2 linked regions of the Homo sapiens genome follow. The protein of the gene in region 2 purifies or fractionates together with the protein of the main gene of each other region. This does not show direct contact. Each region holds a gene or a part of one and is shown on either strand. Other genes may lie near its edges.

Region 1 (3,500 bases), on a different chromosome or scaffold from region 2:
TAACTCCATGACTAATGTGCCATCAGATGACCTTGGAGTGGTGTTCAAGTGGGCAGAAGTTGCCAATAGGGTAGAGGGAGCTCAACCTAAATCTAAGGGCGTGATTTATTGACATGACTGACAAAGGTTCAATGGCGTGGGATATGTTTACAAAATTTTAACTTCGATTTCAGAAAGCTTGAATCTTTTATACAAAAGCACCTCAATAAATAAGTAATCAACTAATAAGTGAAAAAAGTAATTGTTAATACTAACCACCACTTATTGAGCTGAAGCAATCATGGTGGCCACAGTTTATGAAATGGGTACCAGGCAACTGGTGCCGTGCAGAGCACTTTCAACCCTAGTGGACATGCGCTGCTCCGTCCTGCCCACCAGTCCTTCCTTGGGGAGCACCATCCCTGCTCTCTCGCATGCTGAGCCAATAGGGCTGTGGGTCACATCCCAAATACAAGCTCAGCCACATGCTGCGCACGGCCCCCATGTGGTGTCCATCCCTCTGCAGTCGTGTTTGGTCAGAAGGGTGGGCGTGTGGACCAAGCAAGCCTACCCAGAGGTTTATTTTCTGAGCAGGTGGCTGAGCTGGAGCCGTCGGAGGCACTCTCCCTTGGCGCGTGGAGACAGATCAATTGCAGAGAGAGAAGGGAGGCCACCTCAAAGAGTGAGCAAAGCTGAAAGAAGGAGGGGGACAGGGGCCGGGAGGAAAGATGACATAAGCTGCACCACTAGGCTCCTCAGTTTTGTGAGCCAATAAACCTACTTTGTCAGTTTTAGCATAGACATTTTTCCCCATTTTCACATCTCTGAAATTCAGATGTGTCCTACAATTGCTACTGGCCAGATGAGACTGTAACATCATCATCATGCTTGCACAGACTTGTTGAAGGAGAACACTGAAAAATGGGGTGACTTTGTTGTTATTCTCCGTGGCCTGACCGGGCAGATTCAGCCCCTGGATCCTTCCGCCAACAAACCCTTCAAGGGCCACTTCAGGAAGGAAAGCAAGTTTTGGCTGTTGTCTACAGCCTTTCCACTGATGCCTTTTGGTAAGAACATGTCAGGCCCAATAGCGAACTTGCGGAAGGTGTGTCAGGAGCTTGGATGAGAATCCCAGCTATAACAGAGGGGCATTCTCTCAGGAAACGCTGCATCATCCATCTCCCGAGACACAGAGCATGAAACTGCATGGAAAACACAGACATCCGTGCTCTGAGTCACTCAGAATCATTTAGAAGAGCTAGATAATGAGAAATATTTGGACCAGTTTATCATACTCATACTTTATGTATGCCTGGAAAGATATAATTTCTAAAGAACGTGTCTAAGTTTTAACAAGCTCTTTCTCTAAGTATAGAATAATTCTAAGGGATAATAAAATAGTATATCATGGTTTAGGCAGATTATATTCTAAATGCCACATTAAAAACATGATGCATCTTAAAAAAAACCCTTCATCAGACTGAAGATGCCATTGATTTTTTTTAACCTAAGTTAGAAGAGAGTTCTCATCGTTTGAAATTTTAAAAAGTCCTGACTAACACACATATATGATCTTATTTAATCCCGACAACAATTCTATAAGATAGGCATTGTCATCTCGGTTTTATGCTGATGACATAGCCCACATTCTGACACTGCAGGGAAATCAGCAGAGGCACATGGAAAGTGGCTCAGACCCAGCAGATGTAGGTACCAAAAAGATGCTCGGTTAATAGGTGGCTGGCTGTTCCTGATGAACAAAAGACAGACACAGTCGAAATGAGTAGTGCCTCGCTTTCCTTATCAGGGTGATCTAAGTAAAAGCAGGCAGCTTCACCACACACACGCAAAAACAAACACCCCCGACTGGTGCACTGCTTCTGGAAATGCTACACTTAGAAATGCATTTTTGGCTGGCACAGTGGCTCAAGCCTGTAATCCCAAAACTTTAGGAGGCTGAGGAGGGAGGACTGCTTGAGGCCAAGAGTTTGAGACCAGCCTGGACAACATGGTGAGACACTCTCCACAAAAATTTTAAAAAGTAGCTGGGCATGGTGGCATGTGCCTGTAGTCCCAGCTACTCTGGAGGCTGAGGTGGGAGGATCCCTTGAGGCCAGGAGTTCAAGGCTGCAATGAGCTATGATCAGGCTACTGCACCCCAGCCTGGGCAAGAGTGAAACCCCCATTGCTAAAAAAAAAAAAAAAATTAAATTAAATTAAATTAAGAGAAATAAATGCTTAAAAAATAAGAAATGCATTCCTTGGATTTGAATGCAGACTCTTTAAATGCAAATGGCCTTGGGGGAAACCCTAGTTTGCCCATTATGACTGTGGACAAGTGGATGTTTTAGATTTGTGGTGACAGCAAAGAAGGGAGGAGCCAGAAGACAAGAGTGAAGGGGTGAGGGGTTACCCAGGACAGAGGAAGGAGCCCAGAGGGACCCAAGACAAACTCCACCGACATCATAGGCTTGGTGGGTTTGGTGCAGTGTCCAGCACTGAGCTGGCAGCTCCCTGAGGCTCCAGGGCAGGGCAGAAGCACAGCCTCAGTGGGGTCCACCGACATCACAGGCTTGGTGGGCTTGGTGCAGTGTCCAGCACTGAGCTGGCAGCTCTCTGAGGCTCCAGGGCGGGGCAGAAGCACAGCCTCAGTGGGGAGTGCCCACCAGGATGAAGGGGGAGTGACAGGAGACCCCAAGATGCTGCAGTCTGCTCCTGCTCAAGCCCCAGCTGTCCAATGGGCCAGGCCTCTTATTCCTCAGCTCATTGAGGCCATTGTCTCACAGTACCGTGCCCCTCCACAGAGGAAAGGGTCACGCAGCTGTGCACCCCAGCGTTCCTCCAGTATAAAAAGCACGCCAGCCACCTGGGCTCATGGGAAAATGCAGATTCTGATTCAGTGGGGCCTATGGGGCCTGAGATTCTGCATTTTTAACAAGTTCTTGGGGGACGCCAAATGTTGCTGGCTCTTAGACCACCCTGAGCAGCGAGGATGGAGGAACTGCTAAGTGAATAATGTTAGTGGGTCAGGGGCTCCTCCCATGGCCAAAGGCAGCTGCCCAGGTGCCACGGGACACTAACATGTCCCCAAAGGAAATGCCACAGCATCCTATAGGACAGGACGGATGTCCAGCAGGGAGGGAGGGAAGGCACCAGAGGTGATGCTGAAACAGCAGGACAGGTGTTTTAAAGCTGGTTCCCTGAATGGGAGGCTGGGGGTCTCTCACCATGGATCTCCAGAAGGTTCTTGGTGCCAGCCTTGCGGTGCAGCTCATCGATGTTCTGGGTGATGACCACGACTCGCCGGCCCTGCTTGCCCAGCCGGGTCTCACACTCGGCTATGGCGCGGTGCCCGGCGTTGGGCTCCTTGCTCCCCATGACCTCCCGCCGGTAGTGGTAGAACTCCCACACCCGGGACGGGTTGTGGGCAAAGGCCAGGGGAGTCGCCAGGTCCTGGGAGTGGGAGAGGAGGCAGGAGTGAGGGAGGCAGAGACAGCCAGGATGCTGAACCCTGGGGCACA
Region 2 (3,500 bases):
TAATAAGCTATCAGTTAATTTTGCTGATAGATAGATTATTGATTGATTGATCGATAGAAGATTCATACCAGTATCTACCTGCTCTGAACACTGACCTTTCTTTTTTTCTTTTTGAGATGGTCTTGTTCTGTCACCCAGACTGGAGTGCAGTGGCATCATCATAGCTCACTGCAGCCTCAGTCTCTTGGGCTTAAGGGATCCTCCTGTCTCAGCCTCCCAAGTAGCTGGGACCACAGGCGTGCATCCTGGATAATTTTTTTTTATTTTTTCTAGAGACGGGGTCTCACTACATTGGCCAGGCTGGTCTCAAATTCCTGGGCTCAAGTGATCCTTCTAACCCAGCCTCCCAAAGCGCTGGGATTACAGGCATGAGTGGCCATGTTCAACTTGAACACTGAGACTTCATTCGCATGTGTAACATAAAACTGAGTATCTAGACAAGCCAGCATCTTTCTTTCAAGTAATCACTAAAGCCAATACTTTTACTTGAAATCATCTCATTTAAAACTCTGAGCAATACGTAAGGATCACCTCAATAACATATGGATCATCGCAATAGGTGAAGGGTCTTCTCTGCCTTGGAGTAACCTGCCCAGCAAAGGGGCAGACCCAGATTTGGGATCTGGCAGCTGGGAGAGTGGGGAAGGTTGAGCCGTGGGGCCCTTGTCATTCCCTCTGCCTGCCAGGAGGGGGCATGACACAGCTCCTAGGCACCCCAGGAGCCACCGGGAACCCCAACTGGAGTGGGTCCTCACTGTTCTCTTTTTCCTCTGGCAGCCTTGGAGCATGGCAAGTCCAGAGCACCCTGGGAGCCCTGGCTGCATGGGACCCATAACCCAGTGCACGGCAAGGACCCAGCAGGAAGCACCAGCCACTGGCCCCGACCTCCCGCACCCAGGACCTGACGGGCACTTAGGTGGGCTTGAGGCTTGAGACTCGGTCTGGGGGAGAGGTCTGAAGACATTCAAAGTACAAATGTGGGTCACTTTGGGGGATGCAGCAAGAGGCCCGGGCAGCTCTTGTAACTTGGGTTATCCCAAAACAGACACTGAGACACAGATCTAGTGCAAGCTGTTTATCCGGGAGACGGTCCTAGGAGTCATGGCAGGGGAGTGGGAATGGAAGGAAAGGGCAAGAGGCCAGGGCAGGACATCAGTGAACAGATAGGCACGGTAGGTGGCTGAAGCTCAACCCCAGCGGGGGTCTTCTGGGAGACCCTGGAACATATCTCTGGGTTGTCCTATCCTAGGGGTGAGGAAGCCGGGCTGTTATCTACCAGTCCTGCCCTGCATAGGAGAAGGGACGCTCCTGGGCCTGCTGCTATGGCCCTAGAAAGCCCTCAGGGAAGCCAGTGGCATGTTCTGGAAAAGTGGGTGCCAAGAGGGCACGGTCCAGCCTGGGGCATGGACAGCATCTGCTGTAGTGCCATCTCCTGGAACAGATCTTTTCTTACAGTCCTTCGAGATGCCCTATTCAATACCTGCTCTGTTCCTGGCCCTATGCAGGGCACTGGAGAAACAGAAACAGGAAGAAATCAAACACTGCACTAGTCCTGAGGTTTGGTAGAGAAACAGATCAGTGAGAAACAGTTACACGTGCCACGAGAAATAAATAAATAAAATGAAAAACCTGTAGGAACAAGGTGGGAAGCTCTTACTCTAATGCCAAGGGGCATTTGCAGTGATGTGGGGGCTGGGTCTTGAAGGGTAGACTGGAAAAGGGCTGGGACCCATGCCCTTTGCAATAAAATGCACAATTATTTGTGCTTCTTAAGAACCTCAGAGTGGCGCAGGGCTCAAGTGGGGTTTAAGAAACACTGTGTTCGTTTTCCAGGCGTGGAAATAGAGGGTTGGATGCAAGGCAGAGCAGTGCACGTCCGAGAAGAGCCCGGCATGTGGGCAGTTAGATGAGAAGGTTAGGAAGGGCCAGCCCGCTGAGGCTGGAACATAACATCCTCCTCACTGCCTCCCCTGCCCACTGATGTGTGCTCAAGGAGTCGTGGCAACAGTCACGAAGTCAGGGCTGCAGGGAGCACAGAAACACACAAGCCACCGTCTCTGCTTGTCCAGAGCAGGGATTTCACCATGGCCAATCTACAGACCAGAAGTGGACGATGCAAAGTGCCCGCACCGCATTCCAAAGCTGTGAAACCACTTGGGGGTGATGGGCTATTTGGGATTGTCGGTGGTAGGGTGGATTCTGCCAGGCTGGGCACAGAGGTCTGTCTGATGCCCCAATTGGGCCTATAAATGGCGGGGTGGGAGAGAGGGATATTCAATACTCTTCAGGAGTTCTGATATGCCATCTCAGATAGACCCAGCCATCTCCCCAAGCCCATGCCTCGGAAGTGCACTGACAGGGTGCAGATCCTTAAGGGTGTTGTCCTTCCAGACACACACAGTGGCCTGAGCTCCAACTCCAGCATGACCACGCGGGAGCTTCAGCAGTACTGGCAGAACCAGAAATGCCGCTGGAAGCACGTCAAACTGCTCTTTGAGATCGCTTCAGCTCGCATCGAGGAGAGAAAAGTCTCTAAGTTTGTGGTAAGCAGAGATTGGGAAATGGTGGAGCCTCTTTCACTCTGCTTCCTTCCTGGCCCTGAATAAGTCTTGTAGAGCCTCAGGTTTCCCAACTATGAAATGGGTCAACACACTAACTCACAGCTTTCTTCTGGAGAAAATGGCCAAAGAGCAAGATTTCAGGCTCAGCACCTGCTAGGGTCTGTGAGGATTCGAACCATATAAGTCATATTTCTTGGTCCCAAGAAGGAAATAGCCCAGTTTAATCCCATCTTATCAGGTGTCAGTCACCTGTGTCCTTTCTTCACCAATTTTGCCATATCACTGTATCTGTTCTAATTATTATTACTTATTTTTTTCTTTAAATTGGATCACTTTTTAAAAACATGAAGCACATTTATTTCAAAGAGAAATACCTTAAATGGAAAACCAATATCACATGGCACAAAGCAAAAGTAACATACTAGAAAAGTCGATACAAGGAAAGTCAATACAAGGAAAGCTATGTGCTGTTATTAAATTCTAGCTGGTTACTGTGGCTTCGGGAAAGCCCTGTGCCTGGGAGCTGCTCCTCTCCCTGTTAGAATGGAATTTTAGCTTGTGTTAAGGGATGTTAAAGACTGCCTAAGAGCCACACTTCATCCTTCTCCTTCACTTACCTGGGACCGGGATAAATAACATAGCTACCACTGAATGCCAATGGCATGCCGGGCACAGCTCCATGTGGTTTCAGTGCATTAACTCATTTAATCCTCACTGGGTGAGGTAGGCACTATGCCTATCCTTGTTTTATGAATGAGAAAAGTGAGACTCGGAGAGGTTAAATTACTCATCTAAAACCACACAGCTAGACCATGGTAGGGCTATAATTACAACCCATGCAATCTGGCTCTGGAGTCAGATGCATGGGTTATAATTGCCCTTAATATATAATTGCCCGTAATCAGGATTCTCTTGAAAGATGATTGAAAAGGATTGATT

What was found.
Region 1: the proteins of SNX20 (region 2) and SIRT5 purify together in Homo sapiens (affinity purification with mass spectrometry; one large-scale study listed by BioGRID and IntAct). This does not show direct contact.

Annotation. Positions count from the first base shown.
Region 1 is NC_000006.12:13,591,601-13,595,100, reverse strand, and holds part of SIRT5 (NAD-dependent protein deacylase sirtuin-5, mitochondrial), read right to left. Parts: intron 3,433-3,500; coding exon 3,207-3,432; intron 1-3,206. UniProt on the Homo sapiens protein: NAD-dependent lysine demalonylase, desuccinylase and deglutarylase that specifically removes malonyl, succinyl and glutaryl groups on target proteins.
Region 2 is NC_000016.10:50,674,813-50,678,312, reverse strand, and holds part of SNX20 (sorting nexin-20), read left to right. Parts: intron 1-777; 5' UTR 778-786; coding exon 787-916; intron 917-2,391; coding exon 2,392-2,543; intron 2,544-3,500.